7 separate regions of the Homo sapiens genome follow, and all the other regions are linked to region 4. The links come from fine-mapping of genetic effects on gene expression. A gene starts in region 4. Each other region holds a variant in brackets. All regions are shown on one strand. Distances are from middle to middle.

Region 1 (4,168 bases), 58 kb before region 4:
TTCTCCTTCTTTTCCTTCCATTTCTGATAATCTAAATCACTCTTATCTCTCTCACCTGTGCTATCAGAATGTTTTTTGCTAGTTTTTTTTTTTAACTCAATTCCATCCTCCCCCTGCACCCCTTCTCCACTCTATACCTGCACAACTTTCTTTAAATAACCCACCTCCTTAGCACCAGTCCTGAGGTTCTCTCTCATCTGCCACTGCCAAGGTTGTCCTCTCTACTTGTGCCCCAAACATCACATTTTCCTAGCACACATTTGGCCTCTACTCTTCTTCTTTCTATCTCAGCCAAAACCTCTGAACTTTCTCCCATGCATATGTGCCTGGATACACTCTTCTCCACAGGCCACCTGCCACCTCTCCTTTTTTGGATAGGTATAATGTGAGCTAACCTTTCCCAATGAGCACACACTCAGTGCAGAGACTGTGGGGTACAAGAGGGGAATTCAATATGTCATGAACAGTCATGAAGCAGGAGTGTATGCCCTGTGATATAGTGGAAAGACTGTGGGAAAAAAACCCAGAGGAAAAAAATTGAGAAGCCACCAATTGCAAGAACAGGATTTTGACAAATTACTCAAGGTAGGAAGCCCAGAGATCGAAGGGTCAGTTCCAGGAAGAGAAGGAACAGTGTAGACCCAGGGAACAAGGAAGCAGAAGTCAGTAAGAGTTTCAGACACAGAAGACAAAATTTATGTGAGACACAAAGGCCACAGTGAGCTGGTGGGAAAGAGGAAACTTGGAGGGGGCTGAAGGCAGAACCGAAAGGCAGACACATAAATTGTAAAGGGTTTGGCAGCAAGGAGTGAGATAAGAGGAGAAGGAGCTCTGGGTGAGGACTACTGGGAATTTATTAAAGCAAACTGAATTTATCGTGCAGTGCAAGCATTTGTTGATAATGGGGTCGGTTTGGTTAAAAATGCGCTTACTGGCCTAGCCAAAAGGAAGTTACAGGCAAAGTCACTGGGGTCATACATTCCAATTAGAAATGTGTGGTTCACCTTGACCAGTTGGGATCCAGGGCACAAAGGGAAGTGTAAATTTAACCTGAGCTCACTCTCAAGGTTTGAAAACAAGAAGTAATGGCCACATAATCGTGGTGAAAAGGGGACAACAAAGCATTGCTATAAGATGTCCTCCAAAGGTGAAATGGTATGGTCACTATGGAAAACAGTATGACGGTCTTCAAAGAGCTAAAAATAGATTTACTCTGTGATCTGGCAATTCCACCTCTGCATATATACCCAAAAGAACTAAAAGCAGGGTCTCAAAGAGGTATTTCCACATCCATATTCAAGTAACATTATTCACATTAGCTCAATGCTGGAAGTAACACACTCCGCCATCTACAAACAAACGAATAAACAAAAGGCAGAATAGGCTTACAATGGAATATTACTCAGCCTTAAAAAGGCAGTAGTTCTCCCATGTGCTACAACATGGATTAACCTTGAGGATATTATATTAAGTGAAATAAACCAGTTACAAAAGGAAAAATACCATATGATTCCACTTTATTGAGGTACTTAGAGTAGTCAAATTTGTAGAGACAGAAGGTAAAATGGTGGTTGTCAGGGCCTGGGGGAGGAGGGAAGGGAGAGTTAATGTTTAATGAGGACAAAGTTTCAGCTTTGCAAGATGAAAAAAATTCTGGATGTGAACGATGATGATAGCTGCACGACAATGTGAAGGTACTTAATGCAACTGATCTATACAATGAAAAATAGGAGAGTACATTTTGTGTGATGCATATTTTAACACAATAAAAATAATGTCCTCCAGCCAAATGTCCTTCAGGTTATTCTCAATACCTAGATCTAACCGAGAAGTGGGAGACCATCAATTCTGAAACCATGGGTCACAGTGTTCCTCCTGCTGGCCAGGTTGTAGAGGCATGAAAACCCATCCCACCTACTCATATGAAACCTTTCTCCTATGGGTGTTAGCTGTGGGTTCTCGGGCCCTGAAGCCCTGGTACTCATGAACAGGTATGGATTTTGAGCAGGGCAGAACTCAGGATGCTAAGTGTCCATTCCAGATTGGAGATAAAGCATCCTTGTGGGCTCCTACACAGAGGAGGACAAAGAGCTGAGGCTTCTTGCTCATGGGATGCTCCAAAGAACCAAAACTCTAGCAGAGAAGGCTAAGCCTTTGGG[G/A]GAAGCAGCTAACAATCTTTAGGCTGGAGTCTTTGGGAAGAACCTAGTGGCCATGTCAATCATCAGTCTCAAGCTGTGGTCTGGCAGTGAGATGAAGAAGTGAACTTGAAGAGTTACAAGCAATCTTCAAAGGCAAATGGAAGAGCCATTCAACAGTTGCCTCTTTGTGGTGAATATGCACTAGGCATTACATTAGCCACGGAAAAGATGGAGGTGGCACAAGCCAGGGAGTACCTGGATTTCCTTCCTGCAGTAGCTCTGTTGTGAAGTGCAGTAGTTTTGATTCAATCCTGGATGCCCACATCTCCAGTAGGCCAAGTAGTATCAAGAGGTGCTGGGGGGTGTTTTAACAAAAAAGACCACAATTGCCTCATCAAACTAACATGCTATGACAAGCCATTCACCAGCCATAGATTCCGGGCAAAGGTTAATAGGTTCCTCTTTAAGCCGAGGCCAAAAAAAAAAAAAAAAAAAAAAAAATTCATCTGCAAAGAGTGCCTCCTTAGTGGTTAATGTGGGGAGCCTGGAGAACATGTCAGAGAGTCAGACCTTTATAAATAGGCCAATAAACTGACAGCCTTACTCAGGGTGGAAAAACTTCATAGAGTGGGTTGCAAAATTCTTGCAGCTTGAGGGTGAGATGGAGGAGAGGTTGTTAGGAGCACGGTCTTGAGATACGAAGAATAATCAAAGAACTTATTTTCGTAGTTAAGTTTATATTATCTGCCCTAGGCAAGCAGGCATCATAAAACTTGGTGGGGCCTTGCTAAGGAATTACTTTGTGTGCATAGCTATAGAAATGTTACACATAAGAGTGATCAGGAGTAATTAGAATGCATAGTAAACAACCCAAACTTTAAAAGATTTAAAGATCCTAAGGAAGAAAGAAGAATATGTTCCAGTTTAAAGGCTAACGTCAAACATTCAAAATTTAGTAGAATTTCAAACGTGTATGCGGTGGTGTGTGACTTTTTTTGCTTGAAAGTTCACACTAGTATCTGGAGTTAATTTGGTTTTAGACATTTAGATTCCTTTACCTTTTGCCCTATGTGAGTAACAAGATTTAGAACTGGTTTTTAATCAAGCAAGGATTTCTAAGAACTTGTTTGGAAAAAGTTCCTCTGCTCACAAAATAGTGATGAAAGAGGAACTTTAAGCTCTAAGTGAATTGGGAACTCATTGCTTCTTCAAATTTAGTAATAATTTCTTTTAAATTTTGAAATCAAAGATGGCTTGTCTTTCTTCTTTTTAGATAGAATAGGAATGCTATTTGCATTCTCAATCAGAGTGAAGAGCCCTAAGAATTGGGTAAATGTGTGCACTTTTTGAGACTGTCTGTGCAAAGTTCTTGACAAAAGATATATGCATACAGCCATGTGCTTTCTGGACCTGCTTCCAGATGGGAGAATGCCTTGACAAATGTCACAGTGATTCATGACTGTTTTACATACTCTATTATGCATTTTGGGTTGAACAACTTGGATTTGTTGCAGGTACGCTTCAATTAAATGTGGAATTTATTATTTGAAGATATTAGCTCAAAATAGAGCTTTTATGCAACTTTAATTGAGACATTCTATCGATTGGGAACACATCTGTGCAGAGCTGTCACTTACAGGATAAAGAAGGTACTGATGCCATATTTGATAGTTACTAATGAGGAATGAGTTAGTTCCCTTCCACCTTGAACGTGATATACAGTTCTCCATGGTAGATTTTGGATGTGAATATCAAGGAAAGCAAAATTAAAAATCTGTGGCTGACGCTCCAGCCGCTGCAGTCCTCTCTCCTTTCTAGCCAGGTGCTCTGTCCCTCATCTGCAGGCCCAGCCCTGGCCCCAGAAGCAGGAACAACCTCCAGCCACACATCATGAGACTCGGTGCCTCTCCAGCATGGATCTGTTCCAACCATGATGGACCTGTCCACCCTGACTGATATCGGAGATTAGGTCTGGCTTCTGGTCCTGGGCCTCACATGATGCTGTGAATCTTAGAACTGAATGTCAATTC
Region 2 (4,168 bases), 160 kb before region 4:
CCCATGTCCATTCTGTGGCACTCCTCCGCCCGCCAGCCTGTTTAGGTGGGCCGCTGTTCCGGTGGGCCTGGCCAACACTTTGTTTTCTCCCTGAAGATGCTCACAGAATGCTCATGTAGCACCTCATGCCACACCTGGAGACCAGGCCCTGCCATGGGGCCATGTTGGGAACAGGCTCCTGGGTGCTACCAACCAGGACCTCAGTTCTAGGCCCCCGATGGTCCACACACTATGGGGGAGGGCATGGAGCTGGACAAGAGGAAGTGGCACCCGAGTCTGTAAGCGCCGTCCACCCATTCATTCCTCAGGGCACCTGTGATGCTCCAGTTCCGTGCTGGACATTGGGGGATGCTATAGTGGGTCTCACCTTATGGGGAGCTTCCAGTCTAGTGGAGGGGGACAGATGAATCCCATCAACAGACGTGAAATCACCAGTGCTGAGTTTTGAAGATGTGAGGAGGGTAAAATAAGAAATTGGTCACCAAACTCTAGATTACTTGAAGGAGTTAATTTTTTAGAACAAATAATAGGAAGTAGCTTTTTCATCCAGTGTATTTTATACTTATAGGGCTTATCAGTCTACAGGGTTACAATAATTGAGATAAATTTAGATAAATTCAGAGATGACAACCCGATAATGGGTTATTAATGATGCACTAACGACCACCCTGGCCTTTGGAAGCAGCTGATAACAGGGCAGCGGCTACCGCTCTGTACTCCACACCATCAGCCCACACCAGGGTTCGCTGCCATTCAAGGCATGTCACCCTCTAGAGGGACACAGACAGTCAGGCTAGAGGGGTGGGGGGTGGATGGGCAGGGGACCTGAAACCCTGCCACATCAGGAAAAGCTGCAGAAGCCAGAGGGACATAGCCTTCAACTTTGTAAAGGGCCACTGTGCTTTGGGGTCCCAGAGTTTGAAACCATGGATGGAAGACACAGGGAAATGAATTAATTGGAGGACACTGGTCTGGTCTAGCCTCGTGGAAAGTCCTGCCTTAGGAAGAGGTGAGCCCCTCGCTCCTGGAGTGACTGGCAGAATGATCTCCAGCAGAATCCTGGGGAGGGCATTTGAGCCTTAGTTGCTGGGACTGACCAGCGATTTCTGAAATCCTCCCAGGTCCTCAGATCCTGGTAATTTGATCTTTTCTTTCTTTCTTTCTTTTCTTTTCTTTCTTTCTTTCTTTCCTTCTTTCTTTCTTTCCTTTCTTTCTTTGCTGCTTTCTTTCTTTTCTTTCTTTCTCTTTCTTCTTTCTTTCTTTTCCTTCCTTCCTTCCTCTTTCTTTCTTCTTCTTTTCTTTCTTTCCCCCTTCCCTTTCTTTCTTTCTTTTCTTTCTTTCTTTCCTGCTTTCTTTCTTTCTTTTCTTTTTCTTCTTTCTTTCTTTCTTTTCCTTCCTTCCTCTTTCTTTTTCTTTCTTCTTTCTTTCTTCTTCTTTTCTTCTTTCTTTCCCCCTTCCCTTTCTTTCTTTCTCTCTCTCTCTCTCTCTCTCTCTCTCTTTCTTTCTTATTTTTTTATTTTTGATCCCTAGGACAAAATAGTGTCCTGGGGAAATGGGACATCAAAAAGGTAATTTTGGCTGGAGGGGCAGGAGGGTAGAAAAATTTCTAGTTCAAAAGGAGAGAGCAACCCAGGAGTGGCAGGTGAGGGACCCTGGTTACTGAGGGGGCAGAACGCAGGTGCTGAGGCTCTGGGTGGAGCAGAGGCATTGTGGCAGGTCAAGGAGGGACATGTGGAAGGGACACATGGAAGGGACGTGAATCTAAGGTTTCTGACATGGCTCTGTAAAAAAGGAATAATAGGAAGATTTGAAGATTTGAAACAAAGTAGCAAAATAAAAAAAATAAGTGGGTACCAGGCTATGTGCTAAGTATGTTATTCCACTTAACCAGCCCTCAGTCTAACAGAGCAGATGCTATTATTATCCCCTTTAAACAGTGAAGAAGCGAGGCTTAGGGGGAACTGTGTCATGCCCCAGGGCCACATGGCCGGGTAAGGGGTCCAGCAGCTTTAAGCCAGGGAGGTGGGCCCAACGTCCATACCCTCAGCCATCTTCATCCTACTTCATCACAGGGTCGGGGAAGATACAA[G/C]TGATGAAGGCATTGTGGTACCTGCAAGATGCTGTTTGTGCATCTCACTGGCCCTGAGTGGTGCTGAGCCTGAGGGTTGGAGGAGACTTTCTCCACTGGCAGCTCCAAGGGAAGGGGAGCTCCAATCCACTTCTCTGTGCAAACTGATCGACTACTGAACTAATAAAAATATTGGAAGGAAGCCCTGAGTTTGGATTCTGCAAACCAGGATGAACTGTGGTAGAGTCACAAGAAAGGGCTCTGGGAAAATGGCTTTCTTTGAAATTTGTTTATGACAACTAGAAAAAAAAATGTGTGCGGAGTGGGCGGCTCCTGGAGAGGATCCAGAGGACAGTACACTGAATGATGACAAGATCCCAGAAAGTTCTGTATGTTGTTTGAAAATCTAGACTGAGTAGGTGAGAAAATATATAAAATACATGGAGATCTATTGGGTTGGTGTCTTTCTTCCCGCCAGTTTACTCATCTGCAGGCATCTCAGCTCAGCAGCCCCTGCATCCTGATGACAGAGGGTAAGAGACACAGCAAGAAGACTGGAGTTCTGTATTTGCTGTGTGACCCTGAGAAAAACACTTAACCTCTCTGAGCCTCTGTTTTCTCGACTCTAGAAGGGAATCTTTATAACAGATACCCTACCGACTTCATAGATTAGGGAGAACAAATCACAACAAATAATAGTTTTTCTTATGTTTTTATGTTTCTATGTTTTTCTTATGTCACAGATGGCACCAATCCCAGTGAGAGCACATGGAAGGTTCATGGTTGAGACCTCCTGAGGCACCAAAATAGTGAGCCGAGGTTGAAGATGGGGCAGGGCAGTAAGATGCCAAAGATCAGAGGGTGCGTACCAAGACAATTTGGTTTAAAATGTTGATATCAGTCAAGAATGTGCCATAAGCAATGATGTAATCAGTTTGCATCAGAAATGATATAAAACATGGAAATTTGAGAAGAATATGAAGTATAAGGAAATAGTATACAAGTAATATAATTATGTAAAATAAAACAAGTAAATGTGGATCCCAGAATGTGTATTACAACTTGGAGACCAGGAAAATGGATACTAGAAAGAGTGGTGGAAGGAAACCAGAAAACGCAGGGTTGGGAGTTGGGGGACCTAAGTTTTATTTCGAGTTTGGCCACAAATGAGCAAAAATTTTCCTGGAAAGGCTCTTAAGGAACCCGATACATTTCCTCGTTTGTAAAGTAGATTTTAAAAAACCTCCTCGTTCATTTTCCTGAACTGTGACCCTCTAACCCAGTGTTTTTCAACATGTGGGCTGTGATCCTTTAGGGGACCATGAATTCAATCCATGAATTCAATTTAGGGGGTTAAGAGTGGCATTTAAAGAAATGAAATCAACTAGAACAGGATGTCGAGCAGATTGTACATAGAAGGTGACATGTTTCCTAAAACTTTTTGTTCCATTTATAAGGGATGTGTGTTCTGGGTTGAATTATAAATTATATTTCTTATGATGAGATTGTAGTCCAAAAAATCTGGAAAACAGGGCTATAATACCCCTGGTACTGTCAAGAAAGCCCAGGCATGCTGCCTGCCTCAGTTTCCCCCTTTGCACTGGCACCTCTCTTGTCTGATCTCTTTGACTCTGTTAGTGTTCCTAGGAGAGCCAGCCTCCCCCACAGTCTAAAGATATCAAGGTCCCAGCAGTAAGTGCCTTTCTCCATAAAACAGCACCCCTCTGCCCTGCCAGAGAAGAGCCAGTAGAGAGAGGTTAAACTGCTTATGAAATACAGAGTTGCCTGATTTATCAAATAAAAATATTAATATAACCATTCAGTTAAATGTGAATTTCAGATATACAATAAGATTAACTTTTTAGTATAAGTATGTCCCAAATATTGCATGAGATACACTAAAAAATTATTTACAGTTTATCTGAGATTCAAATTTAACCAGAAGCCTGTATTTTATCTAATAACCCTAAGTAACTCATAAACAAATAACAAACAAGAGGGAAATTTTCAGAAGATTAAGACTTTTAACTGCTTCAAACTACAAAACTTTGTGTTTTAATATGATCATAAATTAACAGCTGTATTGTATTATGCAAATTT
Region 3 (4,168 bases), 140 kb before region 4:
CTGCCTCCATCTCCCCACGCAGTGCCTTCTCTCTTTGACTCCACCGACCCCTTTCTCGCTGGGCGCAGTAACTCACAGGCTTTATCTACTGTGCCTCCCTGCTCGTCCCCCCTCAAATCTGTGCTTGGAGTTGGTTTCCAGTTAGAAAAGGAAGAGTGAAATAACTTTTCTCAACACCTATTTCTCACGTGCCAGGCACTGTGCTCGGCCCTGGGACCTACCAAGGTACCCAGCGGACGAGGCTTCCTAGTCGTGGGGTTTACATCCTGGCTGGGACTTGATGATATTCCCCTCCCAAAATGAGTGGTGTGTTAATAACGGATCATGTGTCAAAACAAAGCCAGGGCCTCCCAATGGAAAATTTTAAGCCTAGTGACGAAAAGGTTTTTTGGGGACAAGAAGTCTTTAAATTCCCACCAGATGATACCATTTTGGAGCTTCCACTCCACTGGTGTGAAAGCGACTTTGGTCAACAGAGTCTGGGGAAGTTAAAAAAAAAGTATGTTTATTCTTTTATTTCAAGAGCTAATTGTTGGGAATAAAACCCATTCTTTTGATGTTTTAAGAGCCCATAATGTGTGCAATAGTTAAATAAATGAGCCATTCAGTTGCAAATGTAGCTCCATGCCAAGCAGATGCACAGAAGGTTGAGCTTCACCTGTGGAGCTGACTTTCCCAAGTTTATTTTTCATTCTTGCTTTTCTGGATGGATGTGAACCAACCCCACAAGCTTATTTGCTTAGCAAAGCTTGGTCCCTCTAGAGGCCCAGCTATTGAATATGAAAGACTCTGATTTGCTACATGAAAGACACCACATACATGCTGATTGGTGTGACCCATTCCTGGGAGAGACTTCTCTTTGCAGGTGCCCCTCCCTCTGCTCTGCAGGGACTCAGGGGGAGGGGGACTTGGGGCATTAATTGCTAAAAATTCAAAGTGCTGGAGTGTTGCAGTTGATGAAGCCAGGCAGCCCAGAAAAAAACACCTGCAAGTCTGTCCTGCTCTTCACCCTGCCTCCCCTGTGCCACCCCCATTGCAGGCATGTGGGTCTTGGCTGCTGTGTGCACTTACAGGCTTCTGGGATGACCAGGGGCTCCCAGGGGGCAGTGGGTCAGGAGGTGGAGCAGGAGCAGAGAAGATTCTGGGCCTCTCTGGACCTGGGAATAGAGTCAGAACAAGAATAAGGGAAGAAAGAGGGGAAGGAGATTAAATAGTGCTGTGAACAATGAAGAGAGGAAAGAGGAAAGACAACAGAGAAATGGGGCAGGATGAGAGGGAGAGGGTGGGCAGGGAGAGGCACAGCGGTCTCTAAGCTCCTGGTTGCCACTGCTGAGGCTCCTGGGAGCAGCTCCCAGGCAGAGCGGGTCAGTTTCCCTACGGGTTACTGTGGGCATGGGCTTTGAGTATCTCCAGGGGATGTGGAGGAGTCTGGAGTCCTGAGTAGGGGCAGAGGAAGGTCTTGGCACCCATTTGCAGCCCAGATGACCTCTGGGAGGCACAGCCTGCCTTCCCGCAGGTATCCCCAGGACGGGAACAGGCAGATGGCCGGATCTCTAAGATAAGTTTGTGTGCATAACAATGAAATGGACAGTTAAGATCCGAGGCCCTGCCACCTGATCCAGATCGATTGGTCACCCTGCTTTGGGAACTTGTGACTTGTCCACTGATGGGGCACAGAAGTCCCTAGTATCCTGTGTCCTGGGAGTTGGTGTGTTGGTAGCAGTGACCACAAAACTTAACTTCCAAGATAGGGTTCCAGGTACACACCCAGAGAGGCCCCTCTTCACGGGCTGGGAGGAGGGGCCTTTCTGATATTAGTGGTCAGGATGCAACTTTTCCTCCCTTTGCCTGATATTAGTGCCCTGATATTAGTGGTCGGGATGCTACTTCCCAGGGCCAGATGCTTCCAGAAAGAAGGACAGGAGGTGGGTACCTTGGATACATTTCCAAGGCCCCCTGCTGAAGCTCCTATTCCTCTAGTGGAAATAGCTCAGATTCTGTCCTAGGCCACCAAAGAAATGGCATCAGAGACATGCTCTTTGGCTATAGTTGTTTGGCATGGCCTCCCACCTGGCACCCGAAGCTACTGTCTACAACCAAGGGGCTTAGGGGAGTAGGGAAGCTAAGGGGCTGGGTGGAGCCCCCTGCTTAAAAGGATTGGCCTGAGGGTCCCGTTGGATGTGATAGGTCTCCAGTCTACACACATGTCCTGACAGAAAGCTCAGGTTGCCGTCTTCATCTGCTTTGAAAATGACTTTAAATCACCTCAAAAGCTCCCCCTAACCTCCCACCATGGAAACAATTACTGAAGAAAATAGATGATTTTAGGCTTTATTTAGGATTAATACACTTCTAACATGTATTAGGATTGGCTCATTCCTGCATCACTTCATCTCCCACTCAATAAAGTGAATGCCATCATGATTATGGAAT[A/G]ATCAGGAAACCACTGAGATTTATTAGCAAAAGGTAAACCACTGAAGAACATGAGCACATTAAATGTCATGAGGAATACATACTTGCCATGTCCAGCACACGTGAGAGAGACACAGTACGTATGGTTCAGAACCTGGCTCCTTGTACATAGTGTGGGCCATGGACTGGCTGTATCAGCATCACCTGGGAGCTGGTTAGAAATGCAGACCCTTGGCCGGGCACGGTGGCTCACGCCTGTAATCCCAGCACTTTGGGAGGCCGAGGCGGGCAGATCACCTGAGGTCAGGAGTTCGAGACTAGCCTGTCCAACATGGTGAAACCCTGTCTCTACTAAAAATACAAAAATTAGCTGGGCATGGTGGCGTGAGCCTGTAATCCCAGCTACTCGAGAGGCTGAGGCAGGAGAATCACTTAATCCTGGGAGATGGAGGCTGCAGTGAGCCAAGATCGTGCCACTGCACTCCAGCCTCGGGGACAGTGAGACTCCGTCTCATAAATACAAAATAATAATCACAAAAAAGAAATGCAGACCCTCAGGCTCGTCCCAGACCTGCTGAATCAAAATCTGCAGATTTAGTGACTCCCAGGTGATTCCCGTGCACGTTAAACTTTGTGATGCCCTAACCAAGGGCCGGTGCCACAGCCCGTTGCCACTTTTCTCACGCTGCAGTGACGCTGTTCTTTGTTTTAGATTCAACATTAGGGCTGTAAGGCGTTCTCTGTTTTGCCTCTTCCCTTGTCCCTGTGGCTTTGTGCTCTGTTGTCCTGTTGTGCTGTTGTGGGGTCTGTCAGAAGGCAGAGACTCAGCAGCACCTCTGACCCCTGTGTGGCTGGGGGACTGAATTGATGGGGAACTCCTGAACTTACTCCTCACCAACTGTGGGTAGCCCGACCCCAGCAGACCTGGGCAAAGGGGAGGAAACCTTCCCCATGGGGAAAAACCCATTTCCAGTTTTCTACTTGATCTCAAAGCCAACCATGCCCTCCTCCCTGGGTGAGATCCACATGGGAAGACATTTTTTTTTTCCATAGTGAGGATAGATTTGTGTTAAGCTATTCACTTTTTTTCCTGCTCAACCCTTTCCCTGTGACAAAGGATGTGTATTCATGAAAAAGCTAGTTGGGGGTAAAACGGCTTTTTTTTTTTTTTTTTTTTTTTTTGTAAGCACATAATATGCTTTTTTTTCTTGGAGATCCTCTGACTGCTTCAAGGAACAAATCCTCAACCTTGCTCACACAGCAGCATGAGCTAATAAGCTGAAATAACCAGCACAGAATGTTCTTTTATCCTTAAGAGAAAAAGAAAGAGTAAGTTGTATTTTAATTAGATATTTATAATGGTTACAAAGCAGCTCTTCAAGAGAAGTTTTAAGAATTTGGCCTTCCTTCTAAGGCATAACTGTGTTCAAATTATCCTAAAGAGAGGCTGTATATCAATCCAATCCAGTCTGTGATAAATTTACAACTGGGTTCTGCACAGCAGATTTATAACAACAATTAAGCAGAAGGAAAATGGGTCATAAATTTTGGCTGGCAGAGTCCAGCACCAAAGAGAAGAAAAGAGAATGGTTTAGCCAGATCAAAAGTCAATAATTTCAACATAGAACACTAAAGCTATAGAAGACACAATTTATATGAAAAGAAGTTGGTTTTTTTCCTTTCTCATCCTTTTCAAAATTACATGAGAACACAATGAAGCAGCCATATAACAAAGGTCTCATTAAATAGATGGTGT
Region 4 (4,168 bases):
CCTGCTGAATGGTGTGGTGTTCCTACATGGCAGGCACTGAGCTGGAGGCTCAGACACAACAAAGACTGAAACAAAAGTGTAAAAAAGTGTCCGCTTTGAGAACCACAGTCAGAGCATAGCTATTGATGAGATTAATATGAATAAGCACATTAGTAAGAAATTAAAAATAAACCTAAACCACTAAAGACTTATTTTCTTTTAGGTTACATAGATGATAGATGGTTAATTATAGTGGCTGACATCGACTAAGCACTTTCTGCATGTCAGACACTGTGCTTCGGGCTTCCCGGAGCATAAAAACACATTGAGATGGATTATTGGGGGCTGGGGGTAGGGAAGGAGCTACCATTTGCTCTTGGTTTTACATGTGGCCAGTTTCAATCCAAGGTAAGCTACAATGAGATAAAAAAGTTCAAAAAAAAAATTAAACCAGTTAAAAAGAAAAACAGCACTGGGACTGAGGCTGGGTTTCAGAGCCAATTTCCAAGAAGTAATTTCATCATCATAGAACATCAAACGTGAATTCCACTCTCAGCTATGCAAATTCCAAAAGAATAATACCTCACATTTGCATAATGCTTGATGCTTTTCAAAGTGCTTTCCCAGTTATTAATCTAGAGAAGGCTTTATTACTACTGAAAACATAAATTAAAATTCTGTTCGGACTCCAGTCCTCCATTATTTTTTCCACTCACTTTGCCCTCAAAAGCCAGAGCCATCTAAATCCAGGTGCTTTTGATTGAATGGGTAACTCTAATAAGTTTAACTGACAGGGCGAATATGCATAAATGTAGCATATTATGAGGCCTTCGACCTACAGACACCAGAGTCAGCCTTAGGAAAATTTGCTGTTGAATTAACAAAACCACAGGGGAGCAACTCGGAGTTCAAGTTTGAGATCCTTTCAGGGTCTCAAATTTTGTAGGAGCTGCACACACTATGTTCATCAGAATCCATCTCCCTCTATCAACTATGAGAAATTAGATCTACCACTTTGTCCTTAACCCTACAGAAATCCCCCTCAATGACTTCCTGCAAAGAGGCCCACATTTGCCAAACAGCTCCTACGTCTTGTTTTGTTTTGAATGTAATATGAACCAAGAGGCTGAATTCACTGTAAATCCAACAAGGACAGAGGATTTTAGAAAAATGAGGTGAGGAGATATGACGGGGTTCAAGGAAATGCTTCTACCCAAACCTAATGCCTTTCCAATTTGTTTCTTTTTCCATCTCTTTCAAACTTAATTATGTGTAGCGTTCTCAGTCACTGAATCACCAGCCTTTCCTGACACTTCAATCTCATGCATTTTAGCAAAAGATTAACCTGGCTGTTTGCTTTTAATTCTGAAGCTGTGTTAATACTCACTCCCGCTAGATTAGAAAAGAAGAAAAACACACTCCCACATACCCCGCCATGGCACCAGCAAGGCTCCAGGGTGAGACGGCTGACGCTGTCACAGTCCCTAGGGCTGGCTGCACTTACCATTTCAGGAGGGCCAAGAGAGCCACTGACAGGGCCACCGTCACCATGGGGCCATTCACTTCCAATTTTAGAAACCCCAAGGCTTCCATCATTCCTCTGAGACCCCAGAGTGGTGGTCTTCCAGATGAGACAGGAGGCTGATCTCGCCGCCCTTATGGGAACCGTGCTCTGCAGGTAGAAAAGGGAACAGGCAACCAAGCAAACATCACATGGAGTGGGCCCCCACAATGTGCTCTTTCTCAGAGTGTCTCCCTATAAAGAGGAAGGAAGAGGAGGGCACAACAAAGGGTTTCAGTGTAAAGGAATGAATCAGCAACTTTATTCCTTGATGACTGCACTGTCAATAAACATTTATATTAACTTCCTCAGAGAAGAAAAGCAAACTTCCCCATGTTTGCTGAGAAACAAAATGGTTGTAACCACGGACTTGTACTCTGAGAGGAAGTCTTCAAAGAGAGACTCTTCTCCAAAATGTCTATCTATATCTATCTCTATGTCTATATCTATATCTATATCTACATCCATCTATAATTTTTTAAATTCACAATTAAGTGAAGATACATGTCAAGAGATTCTGAATATCCCAGAAAAATACAGGACCAGACGCCAGCCTGATCAAAATGCTGGCTGCTTTGAGGACAACCATCCCACCAAGTCCATTAGTTGCTGGGTCTGAGGACCTGTCTGAGTGTCTGGCTGTTGGAGCAAAGCAAAGATCCCGATTGGGGTCAGTGTTCTCATGGTGAGTTGGAGGGCTTCTCAAGTGTTTGAAGGCAGATCCGTAGGCTCATATATGGGTCCTTTGTTCTAGCTTTGAGCTTATCTGACTAAAGTGGACAGAGAGATGGAGGGGATCATAGTGGCTGGGTGGCAGGACTAGATTGCAGCTTCAGACAGAGCAGCATCTGGAGGCTTCCATGGTGAATTTTAGCTCCAGATCAACTGCAAGAAAAAACCAGCAATCCCAAAAGGACCCACAGACTCTCTGAAGGAACCAGACTGCTCCTGCAGGACCCAGAAGACACTCCAAATACTGTGAGTGCCCCATTTGCGGAAGTGGGAAAGGGAGACCCTCCTCTCCCAACACAATCCCCCAATATTGAATGGGAGAAATATTCAATGAAATAGCTTAAAGAAAAAATAATTGAAAATTCAGGAAACTTTGGACACACTTTTAGAAATGTGAAATGCTCTGGAAAGTCTCAGCAATAGAATTGAACAAGTAGAAGAAAGAAAATCAGAGCTCAAAGACAAGGTCTTCAAATTAACCCAATTCAACAAAGACAAAGAAAAAAGAATAAGAAAATATGAACAAAGCCTCCAAGAAGTCTGGGATTATGTTAAATGACCAAACCTAAGAATAATTGGTGTTCCTGAGGAAGAAGAGAATTCTAAAAGCTTGGAAAACATATTTGGGGGAAGAATCAAGGAAAACTTCTGCAGCCATCTAGAGACCTAGACATCCAAATACAAGAAGTACAAAGAACACATGGGAAATTCATTGTAAAAAGATCTTTGCCTCAGCACATTGTCATCAGGTTATCCAGAGTTGAGACAAAGGAAAGAATCTTAAGAGCTGTGAGACAGAAGAACCAGGTAACCTGTAAAGGAAAACCAATCAGATGAACAGCAGATTTCTCAGCAGAAAACCTACAAGCTGGAAGGGATTGGGGCCCTGTCTTCCGGCTCCTCAACAAACCAATTATCAGCCAAGAATTTTGTATCCAGTGAAACTAAGCACCATATATGAAGGAAAGATACAGTCATTTTCAGACAAACAAATCCTGAGAGAATTCGTCATTACCAAGCCACCACTACAAGAACTGGTAAAAGGAGTTCTAAATCTTGAAACAAATCCTGGAAACACATCAAAACAGAACCTCTTTAAAGCATAAATCACACAGGACCTATAAAACAAAAATACAAGTTAAAAAACAAAAGCAAAAAACAAACAAAGAAGTACACAGGCAACAAAGAGCCCGATGAATGCAATGGTACCTCACATTTCAATATTAACACTGAATGTAAATGGCCTAAATGCTGCACTTAAAAGATACAGAACTGCAGAATGGATAAGAACTCACCAACTAACTATCTGCTGCCTTCAGGAGACTCACCTGACACATAAGGACTCATGTAAACTTAAAGTAAAGGGGTGGAAAAAGACACTTCATGCAAATGGACACCAAAAGCCAGCAGGGGTAGCTATGGGCTTCCTTTTCTGTGCCCCCACAGGTCTTAGGATGGTCACAGGTACATTTGTTACAGAAGGCTGTGGTCACAGGTGCAGATTCCCTGGAAAGGAGTGAGAGAAAAGACAGGGAGGGCACACAGAAGGCTGCTGCCTTCACCCAGAGAGAAGGGATGCTTGGCTAGAGGAGAGAGGGAGGTGGGAAGAAGTAGATGGACTTGAAATATATTTTGGGGGTGGGTTCATGCTCTGCAGAAGTTCCTGGTGGGGTGCATATGAAAGGGAAGGGGAAAGGAGGACCACACCTGACCCTCAGGTTCCAAACTTGAGCTACAGGTATATCAGGTGCCATTCATTGAAACAGGGAGTCTGGGAAAGGTGAGGTATTGTTGGGAAAATCAAGAATTCTGATTCAGTTTTGTTAAGCCTGAGATGCCCTGGAGACATCTGAGTGGAGGTGTCGAGCCAGAGAGCACTGATGGCTGAAAATATGA
Region 5 (4,168 bases), 89 kb before region 4:
GTCTCCTCCTTCAAAGGGTGGCCCCTTTTAGGGCCTATGGGCCCTTTGTTTCCCATTTCTAAAAGAGGCAGGAAGGAGAAGGTGAGCAGAGAAAGTGAAAAGTCATTAGAGGGGTGACAACAGGTAAGAGAGGAAAGTGTGGTTTAACTTTGCCCCTTCTGCCCCTCTTCAAAGGCTAGATTAGTGCTGGCAGCCAGAGGGGGACAGAAAACCCAGCAGAGGGACCCCTCGTTGTCTTTACTTGCTCTGCTTCAAATAGCCATGCCTTGGGCATTTAGGAAGATGTGGATGAACCCCACACAGAATGTGTCAAGACCACAGTCTCTGACCCTCCCTGGCCATCCCACAGCAGGAGCTGAATGGCTGCTAGCTTCAATGATCTTGAGCTGGGTTTGCTGCACTTTATGTTTAGGGCTGTACAAGCTCTGCTCTGAATGGTGTCTGTGATTATGCTGTGAATAATGATGGAGCAACTACTGTGTGCCAGGTGCTGTACTGGGACTGGAACTATCAAGACAAAGAATGGAGGGTGGGAGTGGGGTGGCCTATATCACCAATACTTGTCCATCTTACAGCAAACACAGTACTTTTCATATTATTTCATCAACTCTTGGGTCATTCTCCAGCAATTAGGAAACACTGCCCTGAGGAGCAGGTTATTGAAGAAAACCAACACCTCGGCATTCCATGGGTGCATGAAGACAGCAGCCACTTACTGAAGGTTTCTCATGCACCAGCCCAGTGATTCTCGACTGGCCTGGTAAAGCCACACAAGAACCACTGGCTCCTTCCAGAGTGTTGCAAATGCATGGAATGCATTTCTGCTGTAACCGGGTTCATGTATTATCGGGAGAAAGGGATGAAAGGCATGATAGAATATGAAGCTATAGCCACAAATGTTTTCTTGTGTTCTGGAACATGCAAGAAATGGACTCAAGATCTAGATGATCTCTGGGATGACTTGACAGATGATCAACAGTTCTGAAACAGCCACACAAGGCTGAGAGGCCAGCTGAACAGAGCGAGGTGCTTCTAAGGACTCCAAGAGATAGTGTTATACCTCAGTGGTTGTAATGTGAGTACAGAGAGCCAACTTGTTTATGCCAACTAGTCTGCAAAAATATTAATATCAAAAAGAGGACCACGGTCACAAAGACTAGGTACCACTGTTACAAACGTTGTTTCTAATTCTCACACAACCAGGCACAGATGAGGACAGCCATCGTGCAACTTGTCCCCTTCCCACCTGGAGACGTGAAAGACCTGGCACTGTCCCCTCATTATATTATAATCAACTGAGACTCAAGAATTCTGTCACTTGTATAACCCCAAATTCTATACTTGAGGCCATTGTCAATTTATATCTATTGCTATCTGGCTGTACAAAGATTTGAACCAAATAGGGCTTATATTTTGGTGGTTTGAAATAGTAAAGGTGTCCCTTTTACTAAAAATAGAGTATAAAAAAATTAAAATGTAAAAAAAAAATACCAAAAATGAAAACAGTAGTGGTCTTACTCTTCTACATGTCAGTTTTCATTCATTCCCTCTGCTGGTAGAAGGTGGCCATAGATTTGACATCATCTTCGCTCTCTCTGTGGGAGAGTGTGACTGGCCTGAGAGAATGGCCTCCGGGTGAGGTTGTGAGATGTGTCCACAGCT[C/T]GAGGGGTCAGCTCAGGGGCATGTGGTGGCTAAAAACAAATTTGGGCTCTATCTGCCTAGTCAGCTTCAGCTGCTGGAAAGGGGCCTCTTCTAATTATGGCAGTCCTGCCTGACGGAGTTCCAGCATTTTATCCACTGGGGAGGAGGAGGAAGCCAGGCGCTTGGAACTGTGCTTCTATCAGCCCCAAAGCTGACAGTGAGGGCCCCTCCTGAGCGGGGAAGGGAATCTGGGGGCTTGTTAACTCTTATCTTTGCAGGAAACTCTCCAACAGATCTCAGCAGAGTTTCTGGCCAGAAGCAGTGTTCAAGAAGGACAAGGGTGTTCCTGATATTGCACTTGACATGCTTGGCTGCGAGAATAAATTTTCCTGAGGGGGCCTAAGAGGGGCTTGTTCCTTGTACCTGAAGCTCCAAGTGGCTCTATGGGACGCTGGTGGGACTCCGTGGCTCCCTGTGGCTGCCAACGGTCACGTGAACTGGGCACCAAACAGACCTTAGGGATTAGCTAGTCTAATGTATTTTACACAGGAGGAAATTGAGAATCAGGAGGTTAAAGGATTGTCTGAAGGCCACACAACTAATAAGAGGTAGCAAATCTGGAATCTGATTTCATTTCTTTAAACTAAAATCAAAGACATTTCACCATACTACTGAGCTATGGCTTAGAAGAGGGAAAATGGGAAGAAGAAAGGGAATGTCATAAGAAGGAGATTGGGGCGGAGAAAGACAGGGAGGATCAGGACTTAGTCACTTGATTTCCATGGAATGTTCTGGAATATATCCATTGAGAGATAAGAATTGATTTTATGGTTTATTTCTCTATTCTCATGCCTAAATTGTAGATATTAATCTCCTGGTTTACACACTTATTTCTACTTCTGCCACGACAAAAGTTAGGGAAATATGGCATAAATATCAGAGCAAGCTTTTACTAATTTCTTTTTGTTAAAAAAATATATAAAGATAGCTTCCTGCTGAACCAAGAGTCTAGTAAGACACAAAAATATGAAATCATTTTCAACAAGGTCTTGAAATTTTAGAAAAATCTCTGCAAGGCAGAGAGAAGTACATTTGAGCATTGAGAATCAACACCACTTAACACTATTCCTGTGTTCCCAAGGCATCACAAGACACTCAGTACTTTTAAAGATGTTAGAATTAAAACTTAGCTACCATGTTGGAAACGAAGCTCAGTGTGTTGTACTGATTAAATGTAATGCCATGGATCTGGCTTTTCTAGGACTTAGCCATGTCCAGACATTAGAAAAGCAGGTGAAATGGGAGACCTGCAGGGGACAGGCATCCCATTGCGACTGTCACCTGGGAATTCCAATGGGGCAGCCCATCCTGCAACAGGAAGCTTCCAGTTCAGATTGGAGGGTTTCCTATGCACAGCAAAGACCTTTCGCCATACCACTGGGCTATGGCTTAGAAGAGGGGGAAATTAAAAGAAGAAAGTGGGTGTTATAAGAAGAAGATTGCGGCAGAGAAGGAGACGGAGGTCACATAAAACAAAGAGGCCTCAAAATAGAGACGGGGGCAGGCAAATGAGGTTGCACACCTGTGTTTCTGGTTTCACTGCCCTCTGTAGTCTGTTTGTGCTTTCAGGAAGAACTTCTCCCTTGCTCAGAGCTGTAGACCCGTAATGTGAGTTGACCTTTCTCAAGAAATGCACAGCTAAAAAAAGTTGGCAAGGTTTGACTGAAGCCATGAGAGCTTCCCTAGGTCATGCATGGCAACCACTCTCACAAGTAAAATCTTGATGCACATGTTTGAACATCTGAGTGTCTTCATTTACTCAATGTTTGATTTAAGAGAAAGAGAACCAGGAACTCCAGGTGAACAGTTTTCAAAAACTGTCAGTGGTTACAGGTGTAGGAATGAGTTCAAGGGGGGCGGTTTTATGGCAAGTCTGCCAAGGGCCCCTCTCTCCTCAATGGATGCCAGCAGGCGGGTCCCTGTGGCCCCCGCACAAGGGCGTCTGACTCACCTGTAGCCCTGAATTGAGCTTTCCTTGCCAATTAGCTCTGCAATGAGCCAACATACTCTTTTCTTCCTTCGATAGGAGGCTGCTGCAGATACAGAGGACAGGAAGGTTTCCAGTGACTAATTTGCCTATAACTTTAGTCATCTTCACCAATGCCAAGGAGTTTGTGGTTTCACAGTGACTCATCCTGCAATGTTCACAGCTGTGTGGAGAGCGAGTGAAGCAGCCCCTGAGAGGCTGAACCTGGGGCAGCCAGGGTGCCGGGTATTGATGGTTCGGGATAAAACCACCCACCACGTCCATCACATGGCTTTGGACGTGACTCTTGTGTGTCAGTGGTGTGGCTCGACCTGTGCCTGGAGAGGTGACCTCTGTGTTGCTCATGAGGACCTGAGAGATGGCACTCCATACTGCCACTCCAGACCAGAACCCACATCTCCAAAGCACTAGGCTTAGTGTTTTGACACATCCCTGACATGCCTATCTGACCAGACCAAGCTAACATGGGCCAAAGACTGG
Region 6 (4,168 bases), 190 kb before region 4:
AAGGCAGGCACATGTCACAACTGCAAATGCCATTGTCTGTGTGCCCTTTGTGGAAGTGGGAAGAGCTACAGCAAGGTGAGGTCCAGCCCTGGTGTGCAGAGAACAATACTAATAACAATGGTTAACACGTGCTCGGGTTGGCTTGCCAGGGCTTACCTGAGCGCTGTGTGAACTCACTGGATCCTCACAGGATGTTGAGAGGTAGAGGGTGTTATTATTATCACCCCCACTTTACGAATCAAGAAACTGAGGCCGAGAGAGGTTAAGGAGCTTGCCCAAGCTCACGGAGGCAGAGCCTGATGTTGCCCCCAGGCTGGCCTGCTCTCACGCAGAGAACTGGGGTGGCCCTCCCACCCCTGCCCCTGCCCCTGCCTCTGAGCAGGGGGGCCTCACCTGGGTCTCAGGGCAGGCTTGGAACCGGAACTTGTGCAGCACGTGGAGCAGTGTCAACTTGACCTCAAGCAGCCCTAGACGCACCCCGAGGCAGCTCCGTGGGCCGGCCCCGAAGGGCAGGTACGTGAAGGGCCGGTGCTGCTGCCGGGCCTCAGCCGTGAACCTGCAGGTCCGTGTGGTCAGGGCTGGCCCAGAACACCCGCTCCCTCCCCTCTGCAGCCCTGTGCTCCAGCTGAGCCACCCCTGCATCTGAGACAAGGATGTCTCCAAGGCTCTGGGAGCTGATGGCTGCTCATTCCTGAGCCTCAGTCCCTCTCTGCTCCTGGCCTCCTGTCTTCCTGCACAGCCCCAGAGGCAGAGCTGAATTCGCAGAATCACCTGGAATGTCCACAGCTCCCTCCCTGCCTCTCCTTAGGAATTCAGTGTGTGGCTAATAAGCCCACAGACTCACCGCCACCCACAATCAGAGTCTAAACACGGCATCCCTGAACCCCAGGGTTTGGTGATCACCCTCACCTGGGCCCATGGCGCCACCTCCCCTCCCATAGGATGACCCAGCCGCCACCTGCTTCCTTGGCAGGGTACCGGGCACCTCAGCACCTCCTGGGCCCTCCCTGGGGGGCGTGTCCTGCTGGCTTGCCCTGCAGGTCTCTTGGGCCACACTGGCAGCCCCTCTCCTGCCCGTGTTTGCTTTGCAGGCCCCTGCACTGGACACTTGAACCACTGGAAGCTGCAGTACCTGGAGAGCTGGAGGCCCTTCCTCAGAACTGCTGAATCTCCTACCAAGTAGTGCATTTGCCTGCAGCGTGTGTCCCATGACAGTGAAGCTAGGTGGCACTCACTGTTCTGTAACAGCGAGCTCACTTTTTACTACCCCTGGGCTTTATTGTGAGGCTGTAAGCCCTGTGGCTGCGGCACGTTCAGGAGCTGCTGACTGTGGAATATTGTTGTGTAGATCCCATTGCTCACGTTTTCCCAGTGACTGGGTCGTAGGCTTGGGCTGAACTCAGTTGGAGCCATGAAAGGTGAAAACACAACTGGTGCCGGGCCAGCCCTTCCCTTGCCAGATCACACACACAGGATATTGACTGGTTCTGATGAGGACCAGAGTGTGGGCCGCCTGCTCAGATGTTTCCAATCACAGAGCCCAGAAATGAAAGGAGACAATGAACCAAAGCCAGGTGGTGGAAGGCGGGGACCCAGGTCAACCAGTGGATCACGTGAATTTAGATTCATGGAGACATCAGCTGAAGCTGTTGTTTTGGCATAGATGCCCGTTTTTTAAAAAGGAAATGATGTTCCGTTACTTTCCAGTGCAGACCTGAAATACAATCCTGTATCCCATGTCCTGGCTTGAATGAATGGAAGACAATCATTTGAAATTGCCTTGTTCCTTGCATGCAGGGCTGCTGAAATGCTAAATCTCTGGATTCAGTTTGGACCTTGAAAAAATGGTATAATTATTTATTTATTTATTTATTTTTATTTAATTTATTTATTTTTTTTTAGACAGAGTCTTGCTCTGTCACCCAGGCTGGAGTGTAGTGGCACCATCTCGGCTCACTGCAAGCTCCGCCTCCTGGGTTCACGCCATTCTCCTGCCTCAGCCTCCCAAGTAGCTGGGACTACAGG[C/T]GCCCGCCACCACGCCCAGCTAAGTTTTTGTATTTTTAGTAGAGATGGGGTTTCACCGTGTTAGCCAGGATGGTCTCGATCTCCTGACCTCGTGATCTGCCCACCTTGGCCTCCCAAAGTGCTGGGATTACAGGCATGAGCCACCACGCGTGGCTAAAAAATGGTATAATTATTTCCTTTGGAAATTATGTCTTGCAAACATCTATCTGAATTGCCATAACTTTTGACTATTTGGGGACAATTTTGCTAAGTCTGTGCCTCCCGGCTGCTGCCTCCACTGGTAAATTTCTATCCCACACACTCACATCCCTTCAGAGCTTTTTAAAAGGGGCAGTACTCACCTTTCAGGGTTGAAGGTCTCCGGGCTTGGCCAGTGCTCAGGGTCATGGTGCAGGGCACCCACGGCCATCTCTAGCACAGCGCCTGCGGGGATGCGCTGCCCCAGCACCTCGCAGTCCTGAGCTGCCTCCCGTGTGAATCTGAGGGAAACACCAGGTCGGGGGTGGATACAGAGAAGAGATGAGGAGCAGAGCTTGGGGCGTGCTGGGCAGGCAGAGTCTGAGTGTGAAGGGGATCAGGGGCAGGCAGCATGGTGTGTGGAATGAGGCTGGGGACAGAGGACCCCCTGCTCAGCCCCCTTCCCAGGGTGACCAAGCCCCTACCCCATTACCACTCACTGCCCAGGAGCCTGCAGCCCCGAGGCTAGGCTCACTTGGTCCTTGATGAAAATGTACTCATCCATCCCTTCATGCATCCATTTGTCAAGCACAAAGGGCCCCTCTTGTGCCCCATGTCGGGGTGCAAACTGCTTTGGAAGGATTGCTTTCATAGTGGGGGCCTGGAGGGTCATTCCTGGGCCACAGCCTATCCTATCTTCCCATTCACAGCCAAGCCTCTTAAAATTGCCCTTGCTCACCCTCTCGCTCCCTCTCCTCCCATTTCACTGACTAGCCCTGCTGCCTGGCATCTGTCCCCTCCCTCCTGTGGATGGTCCCCATGCCAAGATCCCCAAAGAATATTTATGGGTACATCTGATGAATACTCCTCAGTCTTCATCTGACTTGGTCTGTCTATGTCATTGATTGTCTTCCTCTTGCACATTTCTTTGGTTTGTTTGTTTTTCTGTTTTAATTTTCATTAGGAAATAATTCTGAACTTACAGAAAAGTTGAAGAATAGTACATTAGATACCCATGTATCGTTTACCCAGATTCACCTGCTGTTTTTTGCTGCATCCTCCTCCTCCTCTTCTTCTTCTCCTCCTCCTCCTTCTTTCTTCTTCTTCTTTTTTTTTGAGACAGGGTCTTGCTCTGTCACCCAGGCTGGAGTGGCACAATCTCTGCTCACTGCAACCTCTGCCTTCCAGGTTCAAGCAATTCTCCTGCCTCAGCCTCCCGAGTAGCTCAGACTACAGGTGTGTGTCAACAGGCCTGGCTAATTTTTGTGTTTTTAGTAGAGACGGGGGGTGGTTTCACCATGTTGGTCAGGCTGGTCTCGAACTCCTGACCTCAAGTGATCCCCTGCCTCGGCCTCCCAAAGTGCTGGGATTACAGGCATGAGCCACTGCACCTGGCCTGTGTCCATCATCTTTACCATTCTCTGTGTGTGTGTCTGTCTCTCTCTCTCAGACACACACACACATGCACACACACATTTCTTTCCTTGATTTCTCCCTCATTGGCAGGCTCTTCTGCATCCACCAGCCTCTTAAATCCTGGCACTTCCCAGGGATTTCGTCTGCCCTCCCAGATTCAACTTCCATTATCTCCTAAGCCTCCTACCTCAGCCCCAGCCTGAACCCCAGGTTCCAATTTCTACCCACAGACCCGGCCTCTTCCCTGGGCGGTCCACAGAATCCTCGAAGTCGGCCTGAGCAGCAGCAGGTCATCAGAATCTTCTCCTCCTTCTGTTTCCCACACAGGCTTGAGAAAGCCGGAAACCAGAAGCCATCCTGTACTCGTCTCTCCCCGTCTGCAGATTCATCACTGGTCTTTCGTATGGTGCCATCTCTCCAGTTTTACTGCCATCTCCTTAGTTTAGATTCTCGTCTCTCATTGACCTCTTTGCAATCCAGTCTTCTCATGACAACCAGAGCCATGTCTCTGACATGCAGTTTTGTCTGCTTCTTCCCAAGGATGGGCTGC
Region 7 (4,168 bases), 110 kb before region 4:
CCCATTCTGTTGATTTTCTAGAAATACCTGTGTGATGACTGATTGATCAAATGTTCCTTGAGAGCCTTGACATAGAAGGTACCCAAGAAACATGAACAGATTGAGGCACTGTCTCTTAGCATGAATACAGTGTGGTTTGCTGAAAACTGGCTCTGAAGAAGAAAGCTGAGACTCATGCTGGTCCTATGTGTTACTTTGGACCTGGCATTTGAATCTCTCTGAACGTGGGTCCTCATCCCTAAATGAAGGGCTGATCGCAATGAGCTATAATGTCCCTTTCCACTGACATTTGAAGATTCCAAGGAGGTCACAAAGCATCAGGTTGAGACAGTTGCTTGAAGCCATGGAGAGAGCAGCCAAATTCTTAGCTCAGTGCAGGGAAGTGTCAGATCATTGGTCCATGTGCTTTCAGCAACACATCCCATTCCCAAGAAAGCCTTTTGTCATTTCTTTGACACATCAACTTCAGAATACATAGGGACCTAAAGGGCAGAATCTGGTTATTTTTGTGTTCAAATGAGAATTGGAACCCCAGATATCCTGACTCCTGGCTTGTTGCTTTCCCACAAAACTCAGCCTCCACATTTCCTTTGCTCCTTAGTTTATTCACTTCTAGGTCATTCTGTGCAGATCTTATGTCATAAACTTGAGAAAGAAAAAACCCACCATCTTTAAGCCTTTGGAGTTCCTGAAAGTTTGGACAATGCTGAGTGCTAGGGAAAACATATTTCCTACACAGAGAGAGGGAAGGAGAGGGTCTTTTTTACATAACCCTATCCATCTAAACAGAGATAAGCCCCAAACGTTGATGGTGTGTAGCTTGGGTGACTTGTTGATCCACACACGAAGAGGGACTCAAAAGAGCCACAGTGGACACCGCTGCCTTGATGTCATAACATGGCCCCTGGGAGCCTGCCCATACTTGGGGCTACTACAAAGAGGAGACTCCTCCAGACAATTCACAGTTCCCCTCATCTGCACCAGAAAGATTTGCCCCATGGGTCTGGGAAATGGCTGGCTTGGGGGCTAAACAGCTGAAATGAAACCCTTTTTCCTAACACAGAGTTCTGAGCAGGTCACTCCCTCACTTTCAAGTATTTAATAGCTCCTCGAGCTCTAGTGAAGTGTGCACCAAACACTCTCTCGGCACAGAACAGTGAACTGTACGTGCCTCAACCTACTTTTTCAGCTTTCTTTCTCACTAATCCCTTACATGTACTCTGTGTTCCAGCCAATTTGTACTCCCCTATTCCCTGAACATACCCTGTACTTTTCTGTCCAGATGCCTTGATTCCTGCAGCTCATTCCACCTGCAATGCACCTTCTCCCTCTGTCAAAACAGCAAAATCTTCAGAGCTCAATTCCGGTGCTACTCACTGCTTCCTCCCTGCCAAAGTGGCTTCTGATGCTCAAAGCAGGACCCCAGCTCTGTCACCACCTTCCACGATTGGTAATAATGCAGTGATTTATGTACCTTGTTTCTCTTCTACATTATAAACTCCTTAACAACAGGAACTAATTAATAAATATTTGTTGACCTTTATAAATTGAACATTTCATCTGATTTGGCCCTTGGTGGACCTGGGGGCAATATTTTGGGGCTGATGTCAGAGGAGGGTTTTCTGAATAAGTAAGGGTCAGCTGCTGGGGGTGGGGGAAGGTATTTAAAC[G/A]TATTTCTGGGTTTTTTTTTAAAATGAAAAAATTAATGCCTTAAAGTGCTCTAAACTGGTGACCAACAAATGAAAAATTAATTTCCACTAATGAAACTTATCACTTCCTTCTTCCACTACACCATCGCTAAAAGCCACCCAGATATTAAAAACATCCACGACTCCTTTTTATGCAAAATTTCCTGCTGCTAAGTATCAGCTCTAGCCATCTAGGTGAATAATCAAGTGTCATTTCTAATAAGTCAGTGGCTCCTGTCAAGACTTGTGACCAATTAGAAGTCACCCCAATGAGGAGGTGGCTGCTGGCGTTGCCAAGCAACAGCCAAGCTGTGAGGCACATTTAGATGCTCTTTTAGATTTAACCAGCGGCAAGTCAGAGTGACATTATAATTCTGGCAAAGGAAAGCCAAATTATAACCCAGGCTGGGGTGCCCATGATGAGGAGTGTGTTTTCTTTTAAATGCAAATGCAAAAGGAACATTTAAACCAGAATTTAAACAGTCCATCATGATAGTGATTTTAATTAGTAGATCAGGTGTCGGTGGAACACGACTGTGTCTCAGGATAATGGTCTCTCGCTGCTAGATAAATACCCAGCTATTCCAGAAAATGGGCAACTGGTCAGGCAAGGCCAATGTATTTTTGGACTCTGAAGTATTGATGACTACAGCCACACTTGGTTATAATGACGTTCATTTTTATTGTTCAGGAGGATTAAGAAATAAAAGCAAATATTAAAAATAGACTGCTGGAAATGGATGCCTCCTAGAGAAGGCTGCTTGCTCTAATGTTATTGGGAAGCGTGTTCTGCCTTAGAAGCCCCCATATGTGACCATCTGGAGAGTTTACAGTGAAAATTTAAAGGCCAAACTAAACTGTGATGATGACTGTAATTCTGAAAAGACTTTTGCACTGAAATGCATTTACTCATAAGCGGGCTATATCAACTTAAATTTTTAAAAATTGTAGTCATTCTCGAGTAACATGTCGTCTCCAAGTCAGGAAATGCCTACAGGGAGTAATAACCACATCTGCCTCTGCCTTTAAGATTCATACATTATTGACTGTGCCTTCTTGACGGGGAACATCTGGATGAAAAGTGAAAAATTAGGCAGAGAGCCGGATCAGTGCTGTGCGAGATACCAGCCTCCCATTTTATCTGACTTTTCTTTAACTGAGTCCCTATGCATAGCAACATGATTGGTTCATTTACTCTTGAGTGACACATATATCCTTAGGCACTCATCTATGAAGATTCATTGTCTCCCATATCTGCTCAATGGGGTACCATCAGCTCTTAGTTATCTGGGTGAATGAAGAAAGCCCATCATTTATATTGGGCTTTGAGAATGGAGAACATACAAGCTGCCATATTGGATTGGATCCATGGTTAATGAGGTTTGAAGCTTAGTCTCTGCTAGAGGCACTCAAAAACTGGGTTCTTCATGGAAGCTACCTGCAAAGGATAATTGCTCAAGAGACTCATTTCTCTCAGTAGCCAACCAGGAAGTTAACAACCCACGTTCTCTCCTTTTGAAAACCTATTTGAGCCCAGAATAAACAAAGTTAAGCAGGTTTCTTTACTGCAGGCCTTTCTCAAGCCTTTCATATGCTCAGGTACATGGTGAATCTTGAAGAATATAGTTTGTAATATTTCACCAAATTATTTGACTATGGGGCCTTTTCGGTCCTCCATATTTCAAATCCTTTTCCCTGGTAGTAATTCATAGCTTGAAATTCATCATCATATAAGTACAGTTTAGATGCCTTTCTCCTAAATGTATTCTTTTATTCTTGCTTACACTGAAGGTTACCTGCCACTTTTGTGCTGACTTATGCAATCTTACAAGAGTCTCAGAAAGTTATTCCTATTGATTTAATATCTTTCAAATCAGAACAGCTTAGAGGAATATACAAATATATAGATTCCACTGTGTTCTCTCTCTTTCAGATGAGTTATAAAATTTAAAAATAAATCTAGTGCTAACCTGGGTCCCCAGGGGATCACATTATTTATACATTTTCCGTCAGAGAAGTACTAATTTAGCCCCAGTTTTATTTCCTGAAATTAAACCTATTTATTCCCTCATCCTTAATAAAGTTTTACACAATCCCAGGGTTACTACTCACTAATAGTCTTTGGTAAAGAATCTAGCAAAAGACTGTGAAAATCTAAATCTACAGTTGTGCTTTTTAAAACGTCAATTCTTCGGGGGATGGAGTGAAAACTCTGGCCAGTTAAGCAGACAAAATCTTCCCTAACAACAGCAACAACAACAAAAAGTCAGTTGTTTTTCCAGGAATGCTCAGCCATCCTTTTCTATAAATCCCAATAACTTGTTTGTCGCTGGCTATGATTCCAATAGTCTCTTTTTCCTGACTTGGAGATGCATGAATCACATTTTCCCTGGTTCTCTGTTGCTCTATATTATCCCTGGTATGACATAGGCCAAAAAAAAAAAACAATTTTAATTTAAATACAAATATGGCTTCATGAT

What was found.
Region 1: its variant is fine-mapped to the expression of TBXAS1 in whole blood (TOPMed, PIP above 0.99).
Region 2: its variant is fine-mapped to the expression of TBXAS1 in whole blood (TOPMed, PIP above 0.99).
Region 3: its variant is fine-mapped to the expression of TBXAS1 in whole blood (INTERVAL, PIP above 0.99).
Region 5: its variant is fine-mapped to the expression of TBXAS1 in blood mononuclear cells (TOPMed, PIP above 0.99).
Region 6: its variant is fine-mapped to the expression of TBXAS1 in whole blood (INTERVAL, PIP above 0.99). The same link has a PIP of 0.9 or more in blood mononuclear cells.
Region 7: its variant is fine-mapped to the expression of TBXAS1 in whole blood (TOPMed, PIP above 0.99).

The regions. Positions count from the first base shown.
Region 1 is chr7:139,884,858-139,889,025 of GRCh38, reverse strand. All of the region lies in intron 3 of TBXAS1 (thromboxane A synthase 1), which reads right to left. Among named protein-coding and RNA genes, the nearest start is that of TBXAS1, 58 kb to the right of the region's middle. RefSeq lists a silencer at 642-936. The variant G/A (reference allele first, on the strand shown) is at 2,160.
Region 2 is chr7:139,981,945-139,986,112 of GRCh38, reverse strand. The region is part of intron 9 of TBXAS1 (thromboxane A synthase 1); the gene reads right to left. Among named protein-coding and RNA genes, the nearest start is that of PARP12, 79 kb to the left of the region's middle. The variant G/C (reference allele first, on the strand shown) is at 2,090.
Region 3 is chr7:139,968,884-139,973,051 of GRCh38, reverse strand. The region is part of intron 9 of TBXAS1 (thromboxane A synthase 1); the gene reads right to left. Among named protein-coding and RNA genes, the nearest start is that of PARP12, 92 kb to the left of the region's middle. The variant A/G (reference allele first, on the strand shown) is at 2,434.
Region 4 is chr7:139,826,795-139,830,962 of GRCh38, reverse strand. It overlaps TBXAS1 (thromboxane A synthase 1), which reads right to left and starts at 1,699. Exons shown (of 13, transcript NM_001061.7): 1 at 1,484-1,699. The coding sequence starts at 1,572. RefSeq lists an enhancer at 827-2,026.
Region 5 is chr7:139,916,286-139,920,453 of GRCh38, reverse strand. All of the region lies in intron 4 of TBXAS1 (thromboxane A synthase 1), which reads right to left. Among named protein-coding and RNA genes, the nearest start is that of TBXAS1, 89 kb to the right of the region's middle. RefSeq lists enhancers at 3,247-3,546, 3,449-4,168. The variant C/T (reference allele first, on the strand shown) is at 1,663.
Region 6 is chr7:140,014,059-140,018,226 of GRCh38, reverse strand. It overlaps TBXAS1 (thromboxane A synthase 1), which reads right to left. Exons shown (of 13, transcript NM_001061.7): 11 at 2,367-2,504; 12 at 394-556. Among named protein-coding and RNA genes, the nearest start is that of PARP12, 47 kb to the left of the region's middle. RefSeq lists an enhancer at 989-1,489. The variant C/T (reference allele first, on the strand shown) is at 2,026.
Region 7 is chr7:139,941,399-139,945,566 of GRCh38, reverse strand. The region is part of intron 5 of TBXAS1 (thromboxane A synthase 1); the gene reads right to left. LOC105375532 (a long non-coding RNA gene) reads right to left here. Exons shown (of 2, transcript XR_928043.3): 1 at 1,264-4,168; 2 at 1-482. Among named protein-coding and RNA genes, the nearest start is that of TBXAS1, 110 kb to the right of the region's middle. The variant G/A (reference allele first, on the strand shown) is at 1,671.